2 separate regions of the Homo sapiens genome follow, and region 1 is linked to region 2. The links come from fine-mapping of genetic effects on gene expression. A gene starts in region 2. The other region holds a variant in brackets. All regions are shown on one strand. Distances are from middle to middle.

The links.
Region 1: its variant is fine-mapped to the expression of CD93 in follicular helper T cells (Schmiedel 2018, PIP 0.95). The same link has a PIP of 0.9 or more in Th17 cells and Th2 cells.

Annotation. Positions count from the first base shown.
Region 1 is chr20:23,118,269-23,129,007 of GRCh38, reverse strand. It overlaps LINC00656 (long intergenic non-protein coding RNA 656), which reads left to right. Exons shown (of 4, transcript NR_034149.1): 2 at 1-43; 3 at 279-379; 4 at 2,470-3,940. Among named protein-coding and RNA genes, the nearest start is that of LINC00656, 9.0 kb to the left of the region's middle. RefSeq lists an enhancer at 10,570-10,739. The variant C/T (reference allele first, on the strand shown) is at 4,364.
Region 2 is chr20:23,079,636-23,090,374 of GRCh38, reverse strand. CD93 (CD93 molecule) reads left to right here and starts at 4,051. Exons shown (of 2, transcript NM_012072.4): 1 at 4,051-6,116; 2 at 6,401-10,739. The coding sequence starts at 4,183. The coding sequence ends at 6,425. RefSeq lists enhancers at 2,221-2,360, 3,888-4,067.

The DNA.
Region 1 (10,739 bases), 39 kb before region 2:
GCGAGCATTTCTGGTGCCTCAAGTGAGTCACTCCAACTTCCAGGTCAGTGCCCGGCACACGAGGGGTGCTTTTATTAGAGGTATTAGGTGAGGCCTCCCTGCAGGCAGTCCACACCCTCAGCTCCCAGATTTCCACCAGGGTCACCCAGTGGGAAAGGGCAGCTGCCTCTGCATCCCCATGAGCCCAGCTCGCCCTCTCTAAGGGACAGGGACCACCAGCCTCACAGTGGTGGGTGGCAACACCTGGTCATTTTCTGTCATTCTCCTGTCATGATCAGCTCACTGAGAGGCGATGGAGCACTGAGTGCCAGCATCTTCCAGCACCAGAGGAGCTGACTCTGAATAGACAGCTCGGCAGCGGCCTCAGCACAGAGCAGGGGTAAGGGTGGGGCCCACCTGCACTTCCTGGCCGCCTGTTCCCTAAGTGCATATTGATTGAATAGCGCTGCCTCAGAACTAGGCTGCCTGAGTTTGAATTAGGCGCTGGTGTTAATTAGCTGTGTGATCTTGGGTAAGTGACTCAATATATCTGTGCAAGGGGGATAACCATATGGTCTTCCTTATGGGGTTCTCATGATGATTAGTTCATAATATAAAGTTACCCCCCCACCCCATGCAGAGATGAGGCGGAGGGGCTGCCACCAACCAGGATGACGGAGGAAAGGGGGAGATGCTGAGCAGGCTGAGGGTTTCGTGGCTGTCCCTGCTGCTGGCTTCACAGTCTTCTTCCCGCTGTGCCACTGCCCATGCCAAAACCACATTCACCATCTATCCATGCAGCAGGGTGACCTGCAGTGCATGGAACCCCTGGACCCCTCGGCCTCCCAGGGCCAGCCTGCCCCATCCCTCAGCCCGGTCACTGTTCCCAGGCTTTAGGCCCTGTAACTCTGGCCTGTCCAGCTCATTTCCAGCCTACAGACCTCTCTTGGGTCCCCAAACCCTTACTTAGGCCCCAGCCAAGGCAGAGCCTGGCTGTCTTGGACCCTGCCTCTCCCTGCCCAGTGTCCAATAATCCACAGCACTCCCTTCCACAGCCATGGGCCCACCCTTGACAAGGGCTATGTGCCCTGGAACCCGTGCCTCTCACCTTCACGCCAAACTCCTCCTTTTCCTAGACCCCTGATTCCCAGCGGGCCGAGGTCAAGCTGCCTTGCCTAGTTTCTGTCTCCTGTGGCCCCTCGATGCCAGCTCCTCCCTGGCCAATCCCCATTACCAAAGTCCCCCATTCTAACTTCCAGTGCCCAGGCCCCAGTCCAGGCATCTCCGGGTCCATGTACTAACTGCCATGCCCATGTGACCCGAGTACCAACCTCTGCCCACTCCACCTGGAGTTAAACCTCCTGGCTGTGCTTCGGCCAGGCCAAGGGCCCTGATGTGCTGTCCCCAGCCCTTAGTGGCCCACAGCCCCTGGGTTTCCCTGCGTTTTGTGCCCCCTGCTCACATCCTGCTCCGTGAGGCCTGCTGGCTCTGATCTCCAGCCCAGGCCTGGCCCCGCATCAGGGCCCCTTTTCTTCCCAGGCTCATGGCTCCCACTGGTCCCAACTCAGGAGTGAGATTCCTCAGAATCCTGTGGCCCAGACTCCTTTCTTCTCCCACTCAGGCAGCCCCCTCAGTCCTGACTCCTTGGGGTCCCCTTGGTCCCCACCTCTTCGCTTCCTTTGATGCCTCCTTGCCTCTCAGCTTAACCTCTTTACTTTGCTGCCCTCCAGGAATTCTTGATTGTCCCTGACCCCAGCTCAGTCCCCTCCCCGAACCCCACCAAGGCAACCCCCCAGCACTCCTGCCTGCCCTCCCGCATCAGCCCTGATCCTAGTGCCCAAATCACTCTAAGTCCCCTTGCCTTCTGCTATAGCTGTATCTGGTGTTCTAGAATCTTCTGGTCTCTAGTTTTTCTTCCCTCCAGCCTGGCCCCTCAGGTCCCTGCAAGGCAGGACCTGAGCTCCCTAGGCAGGGGTCCCCTCTGCATGTACTCCTGCCCCCTCATTTCTGAGCCCAGGCCCTCAGGCAGGCCCCTCCTGTTGGAACATCTCAGGTTCAGCCTGTGACCCTGGACCCCCAGCGTCTGCCAGGCCCACGGGAGCTCCAAGCTCTGGAGACAGATCCAGACTTCCCCCAGGTCCCCTTTCACCCCAAAGCCACATTGTTTCCATTTAGAGCAGTGGCTGTCAACAGGGTGACACTGGGTGACATCTGATAGGTTTTGGTTGTTGCTCAACACCCTACAGTGCCCAGGACAGTCCCTATCACAGGCAGTGGTTGGCCACAAATGCCCACAGTGGCGAGGTGGGGAGACCCTGGGTTTGAGTGACAGCCTAAACCCAAGGCCCCAGGCTCCCGGGGGTGGGGGCGGAAGGCCAGGAACCCCTCATGTCCTGAGTAAAGTTTACATGTGGTTAGGCTTTGCCAGTGCCGTCCAGTAGTACTTTTTGTGATGATGGACGAGTTCTGTATCTTCATTGTCCCGTACAGGAGCCACCAGCCACAGGCAGCCACTGAGCCCTTGGCATGTAACCCGGTAACCCATGCAACAGAAGACCTGAGCGTCCAGTGTTGCTAGCTTGAAGTAACTTCAGTGGTGTTCCCCAGCGTTTTTCTCATCCCCCTCCCTTCCCTTCCCCTACAGCTTTCTTCCTCTTTCCCCTCCTTCTGAGTCTTTCGTCCCCAGTCCTGGGAACCTTTTTTCTGACTTGGTGTTTTCTCCTGAATGCCTCCTTCCTGGCCCCCTAATCAGAAATGCAGAAGCCACCTGCCCCACACAGGGGGCCACTTTCCCTGCATCTGGCACTCACCAGGACAGTCATAGAACTGGCCTTGGGTGCTTGGGGAGAGTGGAGAGGTCTGGGGGGCATCCACTGGCCTCAGCCTCAGAGCTTCTCATCAGTAACCCAGGAGGCAAAGGCCCAGCTCAAGATTAGCCCAGGCCACTGTATCTGTGCCAAGACCTACAGCTGTCCCTGCAGGGCGTGCATCTCTGCAGCCCAGGCTATCACAATGGTGTCCCTTTTGGTGGGGATGTGAGGCCTGCTGCTGCCTGGGAAGAAGCTGACAGGATTGTTGGTGCTGTGGGGAGAAGCTGGTGTAACTGAGACCCATGAGGGAGGCCCTTTGTGGGTCTGTGGCTGGGAGGAGCTCTGGGGAAGATGGGCCTTGAGAAATCCCAGCTTAGCACCTTTGACAGTTGCTCCACTGAGTCACCCTAGACTGCAATCTCACAGATGTTCTAACCACCCTCTCCCTGGGGAGCCCTTGGGGGTGCTGCAAGCCCAGTCCTCACTCACTGGCTTTGTGCTTCTCTTCCCGACTTCCTTTTTTTGCTCCTGTTGAGAAATGTGGGTCCAGGGCTGCGTGCTCCAGTGTGCGGAAGGAAGGGCAGCGTGCTCTTTGGACTGAGCTGGCTCAAGGGAAGCTGGGTCTGAGGGGAGACTGACCTCGACCCTTCTTAAATGAAACACCTTTTCCCTGCGTCTCAGTCACCGTTACCTGGCCTGATCACTGTGTGCCACACCCCATCACATCCATCCCCACAAGAATGCCAGGAGGAGGGGTCATTGGCCTTTTTGTCAGCACAAACCTCTGGAGGCCCAGCTCCCAAGACCCGCCAGGCACACCTGCCAGAGTGCCTTAACTTGGGATGTCTGCAAACCTCTGTCCATGGCCGAACCCACCCCACTGCCTGTTACTGTAAATAAAGGTCTATTAGCATGCCACCATGCCCCTCCTCCGATGCATACAGTGCCCAGCTCAGCACCTGGTGCAAGTAAGCACAATCTGGCTTCCAGCCATCACTGCTGTTGCTACTAACACAAATATTAGGCCCCTTCTAGAATGCAAAGATAACCCAGGGCTGCTCGTTCTGTGTCCAGATCACAGAGTTTTTCTTTTTATCCTTATCAACTTTATTGAGGGATAATTTACAGGCAATAAATCATATCCATTTAAAGTTATTGTCAAGCTTTTAAAGAATTAAAGTTCGTCTTCTTCAGAAGCTTACCGAGGACTACAGGCTGTGGCGTAGAGCCCTGGAGCAGCCTCCACTGAGGTTCTGTATTTCAGGTCACAGTTGACATATAGGTGGGAGGTCCAGTACGTGCAAAGTCACATGAAAGCTTGGGTGTCAGAGTGCATCAGGTTATGGATTCAATTACAGAGCAATAATCACTGACCCTGTCAGATGTTATCTTACGTGTAGGAAAAGGTAAGACCAGGGCCATTTATCTGCAAAGAATATAGTGACTCAGGCAAGAGTCCGGAGAGGGTGTGTGCTCCATCCTGTTTTGTCTTCAGAGCATCTTTCTGGGGAGCTGCACATCGTTATAGAGACAGGCACTTTGTGAAATTCTGCTGCCAAGCACAAATGAGCAAA[C/T]GTGGTTTCCTATGTTTACTACTTTGTCTCACAAAGCGCACATTCACAGTGCATTATTAAGGGGCCCTGGCAGCACCGCCACAGTGTATCTCTGCTCCCTCTTAAAGTTCCCCGTGCCCCTTGGCAGACAGGCCCCTCTCACTCCTGGGCCCAGGCTACCATTGACCAGCTTTTTGCCACTAGAGGTTAATTTTCATTCTATGTGATTGGAATCATACAGATGTTCTTGTATCTGACTTATTTCACTCCACATAGTGATTCTGAGATTCAAATGTTGTGTGTATCAGTTGTTTGTTCCTTTTTATTCCTGAATGGGAGAGGGGATGTCAAGCTGCACAGTTTTATTCCTGGGCTACAGTGGAGATGGATGGTTCTACCGTCTCTCTGAAACACCATCTGCAGTTTCTTCAAAATCTACCTACACATCTTCCATCCCATCCTGAGGAGTCCCCGAGGGTTGAGAAATGCATGACCCCACACCTGGCTGACGTGTACAACTGGCGGAGTTAGTTTTTCCTGTTGACACTGGCCACGGGCGCCTCAGCATGCACAGCCCTGGCCTTGCTCCTCTAGGCATGCTGGGGGCTTGTCCACACGTGTGGTCTACGGATGGAGGAGAGTGGCCTCTGGCCCATGCGTGCCATGCACTGGACCTTCCCAGGGAATCAAGTTACATGATGTTTCCTTGAGGAGCTACATACAAAGTAAAAAACTGAAATCAAGAATATCAGTCATTTCTGAATATGCCAATTCGCCCATGGTGCAGTTTGTACAGCTTAATCACTGCAGAACAGTTTTGAGGATAAAATTAACCAAAAACCTAAGTAGACAAAATATTCAAATTTTTGGAATCTGTCACAAAAATCCACAGATGACTTATTTTCCATTGTAGCTTATAATGTCCAAAAGCCTTTCTAGTGACTTATAACTGATGGTGAGCTCCCACTCTGTGGCAGCTGTGGGACACTGGTCTAAGGACTACACCCTGATGCCTGGTGAGTTACAGAGGCCATGAGAAGATGTCAGTGAACCTGAAAGCCAGGGAGAGGCTGTGTTCCTGCCGGACTGTGGGGCTCCTTCGCTCCCCTGCTGTGGCCCTTGGTCAGGCCACTTTCCCTCTCTGGGTGTCAGTGGCTTCATCTACGAAGTGATAAAAAACTAATGCAAACCAGAGCAAAATGAGATAACACGGGGACCCCTAATGTCCCAGGGAGATGGTGAACTGAAGCACCGCGTGCGGTGAGTTGTTGCTGTCTCCACCCCTCAAGGAGACCGCAGCTTTGCAGACGTGTGGGTCCCATCATCGGCCCCATTCTACATTCCTCCCTGTGTCCCTGCCATCGCCAGGTGACTTTGCTGGGCCCTCCCACCGCCCTAACTCCCAATCCCAAGATCTTCAGTGAACGTGACGCGCACAGCAGAGGCCCAGAATGTATGTGTGCATGTGGTGACAGCTAAGCCTGCCTGGAGCAGAGCCCCAACCCTGCAGCAGCTCAAACAAGCTGAGATCAGCAAATGCACATCTGACTCTCAGACATGGGGGCAATAATAATAAATGCTGTTTGAGTTTTGGGGTCTTTGGCTACACAGCAATTGCTCACCAATATGACAGGGTTGTATGACGTGGCCATGCGGAACTGTATTATAGGGGAAGTGGTGAACAGTGTGATGAGATTTTAAAGAGGAACAGATTTACCACTGACTTTAGAAATCATGGAGGAGAAATCTCTGGGGTTGCCCTTGAAGGGTGTGTGGAGGAGGACATGGGAGAAGGGGGAAGAACCGTGGCATCCTGGCTAAACAGACACAGGGCAGAGGGAGCCTCTGTGTTGGGACTAAGATGGGGATGTCGGGGAAGGGACATGGCAAGCTGACTGTTGGTGGGGAAGGCACGTGTGGGGCTATATTGTGATCATTGTGATGTATATACATTGTCACCTCCTACTGTCTCTGAGTCCGGCTGTCCCAAGCCCCCGCCGTGGAATCCAGCAGTGTTCGGGCCAACTCTCAGAACCTTGGCTTTGTCTGGGGGACCCCTCCCAGACCACTTCACCTGCAAGCCCTCCCACACGGTGACATGACAGCCCCGCTGTCACTGCACATGATGGAGGCCCATAGGGTGGCCGACCACACTCCTGCCAGGTTGTGGGGACCTCTGCCCAGGCGCTGACCCTTTGCCCAACTGGGCAGTGCTCCAAAGCACTCAGAGTAGGAGTGCAATCATTTTTCATTCTTAGATTCAGTAGGCACACTATTTTGTCCAATTTCCATCCTTGCTTCATCATGTTAACGAATTGTGTGGACCTGTGGTGGCTCCAGGCACTGCTTGGCTTAGCATAGGCTTAGGGCACAGACTCAGGTCAGACAGGGCTGGGTTTACATCTCACTCTCAAATGGTAAGATCTTTTTTTCTGGTAGGGGAAGAAGAATTAGTAAAAATCTCTGAAACTCAAATCACTCTTGCTCCAAAACCACAGGAACACGTAGATGCTCTAGTTGACATATGAACACCCCGTAAATGTCATCATCAGGGTTGCTAATCAGCTGTACGTAGAGAGGCAGTGCTGGTGTCATCAAAAGCACAGCAAAAATAACAACAACCTGGAAGCGAGGAATGGATTCAGATCCTTCTCTCAGAAGGGGCTTTGTCCTGCCGTCGTGACCTCTGCTCAGTTCCCCAGGACAGGTGGGGGCCTGCAAGCCCAGCAGGTCCTCCAGGCTACCACCCTCCCCCTCTGCAGCCCCCACCACCCCCACCATCCTGTGCCTGGCCCTGGCTCACCAGCCCAAGCTGACCACCAGGCAGGTCTCAGCAGCAGTGCTCTCCGCTGGAAGTCGGCTCCTGCTTCTCGGGAGGCCTGAGCTCAGAGATGCAGGATACAGAAGGCTTCAAACTCCTGCCTTTCTGTTAAGAAAAAGGCTCTTATCTCTTGAGGAGTCACAATTCAGATAAGAGGCATCCAGCAGCAGGTTCCAGAGCTGGGAGGCCCGAGGAAGTGCAGCTTCTTGCTCAGGCATGGGACGCACAGGGGCGCTGGGCAAGCATCTTTTTGTGGATACACATGCCTGGTGACAGCAGTCCTGGGGGTGGGGCGGGGCATGCGGGGGGCAGGAGGGGAGGAACCCAGGAGCCATCTGCCCGACAGAAACAAGGCCTGCCGCACAACATCCAGGCGCAGGGGGCTAGTTCCGAGAGGAAAGTCTGCTTTCTTGGATTTGGGGCAAGTTTCTCATGTATCTACTTCTTCATCTGCTGATTTCTGTGGTGAACCTCCTCATCTGGCAAGATAAGGGGCAGCTTGAGAGATGGAGGGGGGGATGGGGTGCAGGGTAGGAGGAAACCAGAAGCAGGTCCTGAAAGCTGCAAGAAGTCGGTGCTCTAGGAAGGTGCTTGAGGTCTAGGCTGCTTGTGCTGGGAGACAGAGTGAGGCAGGACAGAGCCCAGACTGTGGCTTTGGTGGAATCCAAACAAAGTTAGCGGGTTTTGGCTGGGGGCGGGGGGTGGTGGCTGAGAAGAGAGTGTGCCCTAAGGAGTTGGGAGTGTCATGGGAGTCAATTATTTAATCAGCAAATGTCTCCTGAGGGTCTCTCCTGTGCCAGCCCTGCAATAGCTGTGCTGTGCAGAAGGTGAGCAAAACCAACCAGTGGGCTCCCAGCCCAGGGTCCCTGCTGGCGACAAGTTGTCGGCTACCACCACACGCATGCTTCTCCCCACACGCGTGCTTCTCCCTAGCCAAGCAGGAGGCAGTGGAAGAGCCTCTGGGAACCTTGTCCTTCAATGGGCAGTTGTGAATCATGGCAGAACCCTTCTTGAGAAAGGCAAGGTTGGAAAAACTGGAACCTGCCCTCGCAAGGCTCAAGTTGGAGACATCAGGGGCCCAGAGGCCAGAAAGAACCCTGCAGTCTTTGCTCTGTGTATGGTCAGGTGCTTGGGGCTCAACTTAGTTTGCAGATACTCCACCCCATCCCACCCCATCCCAAAGCTGACCTGAGACAAGGAAGGAAAGGGCAGGGAGAGGACCGGATTGTGGCCATGCAGGGGAGGACAGAAGCATGGCCACTGCAGCGTAAAGCGGGCCAGGGGAGGTCTTACTTTGGGTGTCTTAGTATCTGATTTGCACTGAGAAAGGGGTCACTCTGCAGCCACACCACACAGGGCAAGGGGCAACTGGGCTACCATCAGGTGTCTGCTGCCACAGCCTAGGCAAGGGACTGGGGTGGTCTGGGGAGGAGGGCATAGTGCTGGTGGCAAGAAATGGACATTTGGGGATGGACGAAGGCATGGGGTTTGCTGAAGTGTAGGAGGTGGAGGAAAGGGGGACATGGTGTGTGCGGACCGTCCGGAGGGAATCAGGCTCAGCCATGCTGAGTTGAGGGAGCCCTAGGGATACTCATCCATCTGTGGATCTGGTGCTGAGGGAGGGTCCCAGCCAACCTCCTCTATGTCATTGCACGCAGCACCCGGGGTCTAGGGGGATGTGAAGAGCATGGAACGGCTCTAGCAAACCTCAACACCAGTGCTCAAGGAAGCAGCGGGCTCAGGAGCAAGGATGTTGCAGGCTGGGAGCTGGTAAGCCTGGGCTGCGGCAGGCAGGCCTGGGCAGGGCAGAGGCGCAGAGCCCAGCTCTAGGAGATGTGGGAACAATGAGCGCCTTGGCTCTGGGTAGACAGACGTCCCTCCCAACAGATCCTCAGTTTCTGTAACTCTGGCCTGTGATGGTTGGGACTTCTCGGGCTGTACACTCAGCACAGAACATGTCATTGTTCCAGGCACAGGAAGGAAGCTTAAAATGGGTGGACCTACCAAAAAGGCTGGAGGGAGAGGGGCAGGGCCAGGAAGTCGGGGTGCATTAGTCCCTTTCCTGAAGGACCCCAGAGCCTGAAGAAGGGTCTGGCACTGTATGGGCACTCAAGGCGCATTTGCAGCCTGAGGGCAGGAGTGAGCACGGGAAACTCCTACAGGACTGGACCCAACAGCCAGGTCACCCCCATTGCAGAATTCTGGTGCACCCTCAGTCTCCTGAGTGACCCCACATGGCTCCTTCTGCCCTTTTTCTCATGCGGAACAAAATAAGGAAGTATGTGAGCCAAACAGTGTAGCCTTGGCTGTCGCACAGCTGGAGGTCAGGTCTTCTCTAGCTGTGTGGCCTCCAGCAAGTTACCTGGCTTTGCGGGAGCTCAGTGTGCTCATCTTCAAAATGGACACCATAACAATGACATTTTGGGATGACTGTCAAATCAGGGATGATGTATAGAGATGATAGACTGGCTATGTGCTTGCATATAGACCTACAAATACCACTCTTTTGAAAGGAGAGGGAGGAGCATGGACCCAGCCCAGCATGTGGGAAAGCCCAGGGAGGGTTTAAGGTGTTTTATGTTTTGGCAATGGAGAACAAGGCGGTGGCAGACGGTATTACTCAACGCTGACCCCAGCAATATTTCTGGCCCCACGTGCCCCTCTTGAACCTCGCCACCACCCATCATAAGCAGAGACTGTGTCCCCTCCCTTCATACCCCCGGGGGACCTTTGTGCTGCTTCAATGAACAAACTGTGGTGGAAGTGATGCTGCACAACATCCAAGGCCAGGCCGTAGAGGGCATGGAACTTCTGCCCGATCTCTCGGGGCATGGGCTGCGGGTGATGGTGTTGAGCTGACAGTCAGAGGTCCAGCACCCTGAGGCTGCCACGCTGGAGAGTGCATGTGTCAAGACCACAGGGAGATGGAGAGAGATGCCTGAGGAGCCTCGGCTGCTCCAGCCCACATGCTGGGTGAGGGATCCAGGAGCTTGCATGAGCCCCGCCCAGATGGCATATTTGTGAGTAAAGCAGATGTTGTTGGATGTGTGTCTGAGGACTGCGGAGGTTTGCTACACAGCAACACCTGACAACGAAGGGTTCTTGGTCAGAGGCTCGGTCATGAGTGGGTTTGTAACACCTCTTCCCAAAGCCAGCTTCTCCCCTAGGGCTGTGAGTGATTTGAGGGCCAAGCTTCCTGGCATCAAACTCTTCTCCCCGCTGGTCTTTGCTGATGCATTCATCATGACATAGAATTTCATTCACTGGGCTGCGGCATTTTACTCTTTACCCAGAAAGTCATTTAAACTCTAGTGTGAATGAGTGTGGGGTGATTTTTCCAAAGCAGGGGGCCCTGGGTGCCTGAGAAGAGAGTGAAGAGCCTGAGGGACACCTTTTGGAGCTCCTTCCTGCCCAGACCCCAGCTGCAGCTGTTCTGAGAAAAGCCTCTGTCAGCGTGGGCTCAGGGACTGCCCCTCCTGCGGCATCCCCCTGCTGTCCTCTCACGGGCATTTCCCCAAGGGCCCGCTCGTGTTAGAGCTCTAGCTCTCCGCTGGTCACCTTCAGACTGACGATATA
Region 2 (10,739 bases):
GTGGGAGCGGACACAGAAGGGCGGGGCTGGAGCTAGAGAACCTAGCTGTAAGTGTCCCAGGTGAATTAACCCACCTGAGCCCAGCAGGGATCAGCCAAAGGGTGAAGGGACACAGTGGAAGTCAGATGTGGGGGACAAGGAATAGGAAACTACCCTGTGTCTTGGCAGTCAGCGGGTCAATTTGGGATGAAATTGGGTGTGTGCAGTTTAGACAGAGGTTTGCTTACATGTGCAGTATGTCGAGGGCTCAGCAATGGTCTCAGTGTCCACTCTCTTCCCAACTTGCTTTCTCCCTAATTCCAGAGGGGAGAGTTAAGCATGATTTCACTTTTATTAATGTTAGAGCAAGAAAGTTTCCAGAGGCCCTGTTCCCACCTCTGCATTTATAGATGAGAAGTGGGGCTGAGTTAACCAAGTTACTGAAAATAATAAAGTAAAATCCAAGGACCCCCAGGGCAAGGCAGTTTCTGCATTTTACATAGTCTTTCTCACTGTTGGTGCTTTACAAATACTTCCAAGGTTAATGGATAAAAAACAGAGTATATGTCTTGCTAGTTCATTTTCTTCTTTAAGATGTCATCACTTGGCTAAGTGAACAGTAATTGGTTTGAAAGTTCCCACATGGAAGATGAATAACTTACAGCTAAAGAAGATATCTTGACAAAGATCTGGGGGTCAGAGTGGCTAACATGCTGAAAGTCACTCATTTAGCCCATATCCTTAAGCACCAACTAAGTAGAATGCTGAGCGAATGCTGCAGATCACAATCTACCTCTGAGGAATCTACCTCCGAGCTGCACAAACAGGGGCCTAGACCACGAGAACGGCTCCCTGCTATGAGTGGATGCTAGGGCTGCAGAATTGATTTTACAGAATGTTAAGAAGTTACCTGCTTGTAAATAAACCCTTAGAAATGAAGCTTCTCCCAAGCAGAGAACAAGACTGACCCTTGCCAAACTCAAATGCATGGCCAGCTATATTGACTGGGAGCCAGGGACACCAGCCTTCCCTGGACCCCTCACAGCTGGCTGCTTACCCAGCTCTGGTGGCACACTTAGCGTCCCGAGGAGGCAGGTCACAAGGACAGGGGGTCTGGGAGACCCTGAGCCCCAAGAGGCAATCCCCTGTGTTCTCAGAACCAGGTACCTCCAGCGGACACAGCCTTCCAGGACCCCAGCTCCCGGCAGGAGCCATGCAGTCCTTCTGCGTGCCCGGTGCCCTTCCCCCCACCTCCACCCAGCCCCGAGAACATCTGACCTGGACTCCACAGCCTGGAAACCTGCGGCCACCTGCTGAGGGCCCCCCCACCCACTGCTTGGGTCCACTGACCAGTCCCCTTCCACATGTAGGCCTCATGCCAGCCCTCAGTGTTTCCCCGTGGATTTCAAGACGAAGCCTCAAGCCTTCATTACTGGGGTTCACAGGGCTCCATCTTCCCCTGCATCCTCCCTCCCACTGCCTGGGCTTTGGTCTCCCTGCCCTTCACTCACTCTCTGTCCCCAGGGCTTCTGTACATGCTGTTCCCCCATCCCGACACCATTCCACATCTGAGCTGCTTCTCCTTTAGATTCCGGCTTGACTGCCTGTCTTCTCCAGAGGAGTCTCTCCTAATTGCCCATCCCCCAGTCAGGATGCCACCCCTGTATCAACCACGACCTCCCCGCTCCCCTGTGCTGCCTGCAATAAAGCCATCAGTGCCGTGACTTGTTCAAAGTTGTCCACTCTAACAGGACTCCAGGATCACAGAGGCAGGGATCCCCTCCTGGAATCCAGTGCCTCACTCAGTGCATAGCAGGGTCTTAATCAACAATTGTTAGATGGGTGGATGGACAAACAGATGGATGAATGAAGGGGCACAGGGAGGGTCTGGTGGCTTCTATGGAGAGTTCCCAAAATGTCTCAAATATCTTTGCTAAAATGCAAGGACTTAAGGCACATTCTTAGGAGGTATCCAGCTGGAGTCAGAGATGCCTCCTTGTCCCTTGGGGAGCCAGCGAGCTCCTAGCCCCCGGGACAACTCAACATCTCCATGGAGGCCACTGTGGTGGTCGCTGGTGCCGGGTCCACAGGCGTTCACTGTGTTCTCCACCGTGGCGCTTCTTCCCCTGGGGCCCTCACGGTCAGTGCAGAGCACCAAAGAGTTGCCGCTGTGTAGAGAATTCTTATAATTGTGCATTGCATCCATTTTGAATCTAATTTGGACCCTCTCCTACCAGAAGCAGGGTTTATTGCTCTTGACACGGTGTCTAGGGCTCCACCCCCTCCCAGTTCCTCAATGCGGCCAACCCAGATATCTGCCTTGTACACCCACCTCCTGGTGACCATTTCCCTGTGGGACAGGCAGATACAGCCCATTTGATGGTCTCAGTGACTCCACACCCCACAGGGACTTCCCAGACATGCCGCCATGCCCACCTCTCAGCCACAGGGACCCCACGGAGCCCGTGTCTGTTTGCTCTAAACCCACCAGTGAGAAGTCCCCTTGGGAAACCTGCTTGGGAAACGTCCTGGACCCCAATAAAGGCTTAGGACCCAGGTCTCTCTCTCTCCCTTCACCCCCCTCCAGGTGAGTGTTTGTGACCCAGACAGCTCCCCACTTTTTGCTGGCCCCGTGGGGTGCACTGCCCTCTCCCTGGGATCTGTAAGTGACACGGTGCTTGTGTTGCTTCCTGTGTCTTCTTGTGCTGCCTCCTGCATCTCCCCTGACCCACACCCCAACCCAACTCTCCTCCCATCAGGGATCTCTTAGGAAGTGGCTGTCTTGATAGGAATAAACTGGACATGGGTCAGACGAGAGCCACAAGGGTGTCTGTCCATAGAAACAAGTTTTATGTGAGAGAGACCCCTGGTCACTGGGCAGGGCTAGAATTTATAGTCAGTCTCTCAAAGTGAGAGATACAGCCTGCTACCAATGACAGGGGACTTGGAGAGCAGTGGAGCCTCTCCCTCAGCTGAGATGGTGCTGAGGTGTGGTCCCCTCAGGCCCCCAGAGTTTCCTGGCACTGGCTCCAGCAGCCCAGGGTCACCTTCTCAGCAAGTCATCATGGGTTGGCTTCCTCCTTGTCTGTTTCACTTCCCCTCCCACATAAACTAGTCTCCCCAAATCCTGTCTCAGGGTCCCCTCCTGGGGGATCCCAACCAATGAGCAAAGGTCTGTGGCTGCAGGAAAAGCACACTGTGAGTCCCTGGCTTTTGCCGAGTCGCGGTGTCGCGGGAGGGCCTGCCCGGGCTTCGATTCCCGCTCCCTGCCCAGATTTCCGGCCCTTGCTAGGAATCCTGAGCCGGGGGAAGTGAGCCTGCAAGCCCTGCGCCACGAGGCCGGACACATTTTCATTTTCTTTCTGATGCTTTTTGTGACCCTGACACCTCACAATGCAATATTTCCACTATGAAACCCCCAGAACTGCCAAATTTCACCCAATTTGGATTAACATTATCGAGGAGCTTGGCATTATGTTGAAAACCCAGACATTCCCACGACCCGTATCCTATTTAAAAAATGCCTGTCTATTTAAGGTTCACGATGGGAGGATAAAAGAAAAAAGGCTCCCAAAGTCAACAGAGAACATGAGCTAGGCAAAAGGAAAGTCCAGTTTGCTTCTAAAAAAGGCTGAAAATTATAACCATCCATGGCCTTGTGTCTTAAGTCTCAGAATTTTTTTTTTCTCTTTTGGTGGTTTGCAAACCAAAGTGGAATTTTATTATGGGTTACTAAGGGAGCTTCCTCGAGTTCCTAGCCCCCAAAGCCCCTGCTCACTCCATGGCATGCCTCCGAGGCTCCTCATGCCATGAGAAAGAGAATGGAGCCAAAATCAAGCCGGCAGTATCTCGGGGCTGTAACGTCTTCCCCCCGTCGCTGTTTCCACAGTGCTGAGCCAGGGACCCGGCAGAGCTGCCTGACTCCTTTTATGAACAACAGCACCGTGATGAAGGCAGCAGGAGTCAGAGAACTATTCATTGCAGGAAGCCCCAACATCCGGTGAGAAATAAGAAGTACAACAGTACAGGATGCGCCTTGGGTCAGGGGGACGTGGAAAGCCCTCAGCCTTTGTGTCCTTCTCTGCGCCGGAGTGGCTGCAGCTCACCCCTCAGCTCCCCTTGGGGCCCAGCTGGGAGCCGAGATAGAAGCTCCTGTCGCCGCTGGGCTTCTCGCCTCCCGCAGAGGGCCACACAGAGACCGGGATGGCCACCTCCATGGGCCTGCTGCTGCTGCTGCTGCTGCTCCTGACCCAGCCCGGGGCGGGGACGGGAGCTGACACGGAGGCGGTGGTCTGCGTGGGGACCGCCTGCTACACGGCCCACTCGGGCAAGCTGAGCGCTGCCGAGGCCCAGAACCACTGCAACCAGAACGGGGGCAACCTGGCCACTGTGAAGAGCAAGGAGGAGGCCCAGCACGTCCAGCGAGTACTGGCCCAGCTCCTGAGGCGGGAGGCAGCCCTGACGGCGAGGATGAGCAAGTTCTGGATTGGGCTCCAGCGAGAGAAGGGCAAGTGCCTGGACCCTAGTCTGCCGCTGAAGGGCTTCAGCTGGGTGGGCGGGGGGGAGGACACGCCTTACTCTAACTGGCACAAGGAGCTCCGGAACTCGTGCATCTCCAAGCGCTGTGTGTCTCTGCTGCTGGACCTGTCCCAGCCGCTCCTTCCCAGCCGCCTCCCCAAGTGGTCTGAGGGCCCCTGTGGGAGCCCAGGCTCCCCCGGAAGTAACATTGAGGGCTTCGTGTGCAAGTTCAGCTTCAAAGGCATGTGCCGGCCTCTGGCCCTGGGGGGCCCAGGTCAGGTGACCTACACCACCCCCTTCCAGACCACCAGTTCCTCCTTGGAGGCTGTGCCCTTTGCCTCTGCGGCCAATGTAGCCTGTGGGGAAGGTGACAAGGACGAGACTCAGAGTCATTATTTCCTGTGCAAGGAGAAGGCCCCCGATGTGTTCGACTGGGGCAGCTCGGGCCCCCTCTGTGTCAGCCCCAAGTATGGCTGCAACTTCAACAATGGGGGCTGCCACCAGGACTGCTTTGAAGGGGGGGATGGCTCCTTCCTCTGCGGCTGCCGACCAGGATTCCGGCTGCTGGATGACCTGGTGACCTGTGCCTCTCGAAACCCTTGCAGCTCCAGCCCATGTCGTGGGGGGGCCACGTGCGTCCTGGGACCCCATGGGAAAAACTACACGTGCCGCTGCCCCCAAGGGTACCAGCTGGACTCGAGTCAGCTGGACTGTGTGGACGTGGATGAATGCCAGGACTCCCCCTGTGCCCAGGAGTGTGTCAACACCCCTGGGGGCTTCCGCTGCGAATGCTGGGTTGGCTATGAGCCGGGCGGTCCTGGAGAGGGGGCCTGTCAGGATGTGGATGAGTGTGCTCTGGGTCGCTCGCCTTGCGCCCAGGGCTGCACCAACACAGATGGCTCATTTCACTGCTCCTGTGAGGAGGGCTACGTCCTGGCCGGGGAGGACGGGACTCAGTGCCAGGACGTGGATGAGTGTGTGGGCCCGGGGGGCCCCCTCTGCGACAGCTTGTGCTTCAACACACAAGGGTCCTTCCACTGTGGCTGCCTGCCAGGCTGGGTGCTGGCCCCAAATGGGGTCTCTTGCACCATGGGGCCTGTGTCTCTGGGACCACCATCTGGGCCCCCCGATGAGGAGGACAAAGGAGAGAAAGAAGGGAGCACCGTGCCCCGTGCTGCAACAGCCAGTCCCACAAGGGGCCCCGAGGGCACCCCCAAGGCTACACCCACCACAAGTAGACCTTCGCTGTCATCTGACGCCCCCATCACATCTGCCCCACTCAAGATGCTGGCCCCCAGTGGGTCCCCAGGCGTCTGGAGGGAGCCCAGCATCCATCACGCCACAGCTGCCTCTGGCCCCCAGGAGCCTGCAGGTGGGGACTCCTCCGTGGCCACACAAAACAACGATGGCACTGACGGGCAAAAGCTGCTTTTATTCTACATCCTAGGCACCGTGGTGGCCATCCTACTCCTGCTGGCCCTGGCTCTGGGGCTACTGGTCTATCGCAAGCGGAGAGCGAAGAGGGAGGAGAAGAAGGAGAAGAAGCCCCAGAATGCGGCAGACAGTTACTCCTGGGTTCCAGAGCGAGCTGAGAGCAGGGCCATGGAGAACCAGTACAGGTAAAGGGGGCCCTGAGTGACCGGGGGAGGGGATGGGCAGGCATGGGGGCACTGACTACAGTACAAAGAGGTGGCAGCAAGAGCAGGCCCAGGTTTCCTGTGGGCAGACACACCCTGGTCCTTGCAGCTGACCCCTCAACCTCCCCCCACGCCAGGCACTCGGGCCCCCTTAGAGCATACTGCCCATCTGCAGCACGGCCGCACGTGGGGCTCTCTCCCAAGGTGGGGACGTGCAGGCACAGAGGCGCCATGGCTTCCAACGCTGTCTGTTTTGTTTCCCATAGTCCGACACCTGGGACAGACTGCTGAAAGTGAGGTGGCCCTAGAGACACTAGAGTCACCAGCCACCATCCTCAGAGCTTTGAACTCCCCATTCCAAAGGGGCACCCACATTTTTTTGAAAGACTGGACTGGAATCTTAGCAAACAATTGTAAGTCTCCTCCTTAAAGGCCCCTTGGAACATGCAGGTATTTTCTACGGGTGTTTGATGTTCCTGAAGTGGAAGCTGTGTGTTGGCGTGCCACGGTGGGGATTTCGTGACTCTATAATGATTGTTACTCCCCCTCCCTTTTCAAATTCCAATGTGACCAATTCCGGATCAGGGTGTGAGGAGGCCGGGGCTAAGGGGCTCCCCTGAATATCTTCTCTGCTCACTTCCACCATCTAAGAGGAAAAGGTGAGTTGCTCATGCTGATTAGGATTGAAATGATTTGTTTCTCTTCCTAGGATGAAAACTAAATCAATTAATTATTCAATTAGGTAAGAAGATCTGGTTTTTTGGTCAAAGGGAACATGTTCGGACTGGAAACATTTCTTTACATTTGCATTCCTCCATTTCGCCAGCACAAGTCTTGCTAAATGTGATACTGTTGACATCCTCCAGAATGGCCAGAAGTGCAATTAACCTCTTAGGTGGCAAGGAGGCAGGAAGTGCCTCTTTAGTTCTTACATTTCTAATAGCCTTGGGTTTATTTGCAAAGGAAGCTTGAAAAATATGAGAAAAGTTGCTTGAAGTGCATTACAGGTGTTTGTGAAGTCACATAATCTACGGGGCTAGGGCGAGAGAGGCCAGGGATTTGTTCACAGATACTTGAATTAATTCATCCAAATGTACTGAGGTTACCACACACTTGACTACGGATGTGATCAACACTAACAAGGAAACAAATTCAAGGACAACCTGTCTTTGAGCCAGGGCAGGCCTCAGACACCCTGCCTGTGGCCCCGCCTCCACTTCATCCTGCCCGGAATGCCAGTGCTCCGAGCTCAGACAGAGGAAGCCCTGCAGAAAGTTCCATCAGGCTGTTTCCTAAAGGATGTGTGAACGGGAGATGATGCACTGTGTTTTGAAAGTTGTCATTTTAAAGCATTTTAGCACAGTTCATAGTCCACAGTTGATGCAGCATCCTGAGATTTTAAATCCTGAAGTGTGGGTGGCGCACACACCAAGTAGGGAGCTAGTCAGGCAGTTTGCTTAAGGAACTTTTGTTCTCTGTCTCTTTTCCTTAAAATTGGGGGTAAGGAGGGAAGGAAGAGGGAAAGAGATGACTAACTAAAATCATTTTTACAGCAAAAACTGCTCAAAGCCATTTAAATTATATCCTCATTTTAAAAGTTACATTTGCAAATATTTCTCCCTATGATAATGTAGTCGATAGTGTGCACTCTTTCTCTCTCTCTCTCTCTCTCACACACACACACACACACACACACACACACACAGAGACACGGCACCATTCTGCCTGGGGCACTGGAACACATTCCTGGGGGTCACCGATGGTCAGAGTCACTAGAAGTTACCTGAGTATCTCTGGGAGGCCTCATGTCTCCTGTGGGCTTTTTACCACCACTGTGCAGGAGAACAGACAGAGGAAATGTGTCTCCCTCCAAGGCCCCAAAGCCTCAGAGAAAGGGTGTTTCTGGTTTTGCCTTAGCAATGCATCGGTCTCTGAGGTGACACTCTGGAGTGGTTGAAGGGCCACAAGGTGCAGGGTTAATACTCTTGCCAGTTTTGAAATATAGATGCTATGGTTCAGATTGTTTTTAATAGAAAACTAAAGGGGCAGGGGAAGTGAAAGGAAAGATGGAGGTTTTGTGCGGCTCGATGGGGCATTTGGAACTTCTTTTTAAAGTCATCTCATGGTCTCCAGTTTTCAGTTGGAACTCTGGTGTTTAACACTTAAGGGAGACAAAGGCTGTGTCCATTTGGCAAAACTTCCTTGGCCACGAGACTCTAGGTGATGTGTGAAGCTGGGCAGTCTGTGGTGTGGAGAGCAGCCATCTGTCTGGCCATTCAGAGGATTCTAAAGACATGGCTGGATGCGCTGCTGACCAACATCAGCACTTAAATAAATGCAAATGCAACATTTCTCCCTCTGGGCCTTGAAAATCCTTGCCCTTATCATTTGGGGTGAAGGAGACATTTCTGTCCTTGGCTTCCCACAGCCCCAACGCAGTCTGTGTATGATTCCTGGGATCCAACGAGCCCTCCTATTTTCACAGTGTTCTGATTGCTCTCACAGCCCAGGCCCATCGTCTGTTCTCTGAATGCAGCCCTGTTCTCAACAACAGGGAGGTCATGGAACCCCTCTGTGGAACCCACAAGGGGAGAAATGGGTGATAAAGAATCCAGTTCCTCAAAACCTTCCCTGGCAGGCTGGGTCCCTCTCCTGCTGGGTGGTGCTTTCTCTTGCACACCACTCCCACCACGGGGGGAGAGCCAGCAACCCAACCAGACAGCTCAGGTTGTGCATCTGATGGAAACCACTGGGCTCAAACACGTGCTTTATTCTCCTGTTTATTTTTGCTGTTACTTTGAAGCATGGAAATTCTTGTTTGGGGGATCTTGGGGCTACAGTAGTGGGTAAACAAATGCCCACCGGCCAAGAGGCCATTAACAAATCGTCCTTGTCCTGAGGGGCCCCAGCTTGCTCGGGCGTGGCACAGTGGGGAATCCAAGGGTCACAGTATGGGGAGAGGTGCACCCTGCCACCTGCTAACTTCTCGCTAGACACAGTGTTTCTGCCCAGGTGACCTGTTCAGCAGCAGAACAAGCCAGGGCCATGGGGACGGGGGAAGTTTTCACTTGGAGATGGACACCAAGACAATGAAGATTTGTTGTCCAAATAGGTCAATAATTCTGGGAGACTCTTGGAAAAAACTGAATATATTCAGGACCAACTCTCTCCCTCCCCTCATCCCACATCTCAAAGCAGACAATGTAAAGAGAGAACATCTCACACACCCAGCTCGCCATGCCTACTCATTCCTGAATTTCAGGTGCCATCACTGCTCTTTCTTTCTTCTTTGTCATTTGAGAAAGGATGCAGGAGGACAATTCCCACAGATAATCTGAGGAATGCAGAAAAACCAGGGCAGGACAGTTATCGACAATGCATTAGAACTTGGTGAGCATCCTCTGTAGAGGGACTCCACCCCTGCTCAACAGCTTGGCTTCCAGGCAAGACCAACCACATCTGGTCTCTGCCTTCGGTGGCCCACACACCTAAGCGTCATCGTCATTGCCATAGCATCATGATGCAACACATCTACGTGTAGCACTACGACGTTATGTTTGGGTAATGTGGGGATGAACTGCATGAGGCTCTGATTAAGGATGTGGGGAAGTGGGCTGCGGTCACTGTCGGCCTTGCAAGGCCACCTGGAGGCCTGTCTGTTAGCCAGTGGTGGAGGAGCAAGGCTTCAGGAAGGGCCAGCCACATGCCATCTTCCCTGCGATCAGGCAAAAAAGTGGAATTAAAAAGTCAAACCTTTATATGCATGTGTTATGTCCATTTTGCAGGATGAACTGAGTTTAAAAGAATTTTTTTTTCTCTTCAAGTTGCTTTGTCTTTTCCATCCTCATCACAAGCCCTTGTTTGAGTGTCTTATCCCTGAGCAATCTTTCGATGGATGGAGATGATCATTAGGTACTTTTGTTTCAACCTTTATTCCTGTAAATATTTCTGTGAAAACTAGGAGAACAGAGATGAGATTTGACAAAAAAAAATTGAATTAAAAATAACACAGTCTTTTTAAAACTAACATAGGAAAGCCTTTCCTATTATTTCTCTTCTTAGCTTCTCCATTGTCTAAATCAGGAAAACAGGAAAACACAGCTTTCTAGCAGCTGCAAAATGGTTTAATGCCCCCTACATATTTCCATCACCTTGAACAATAGCTTTAGCTTGGGAATCTGAGATATGATCCCAGAAAACATCTGTCTCTACTTCGGCTGCAAAACCCATGGTTTAAATCTATATGGTTTGTGCATTTTCTCAACTAAAAATAGAGATGATAATCCGAATTCTCCATATATTCACTAATCAAAGACACTATTTTCATACTAGATTCCTGAGACAAATACTCACTGAAGGGCTTGTTTAAAAATAAATTGTGTTTTGGTCTGTTCTTGTAGATAATGCCCTTCTATTTTAGGTAGAAGCTCTGGAATCCCTTTATTGTGCTGTTGCTCTTATCTGCAAGGTGGCAAGCAGTTCTTTTCAGCAGATTTTGCCCACTATTCCTCTGAGCTGAAGTTCTTTGCATAGATTTGGCTTAAGCTTGAATTAGATCCCTGCAAAGGCTTGCTCTGTGATGTCAGATGTAATTGTAAATGTCAG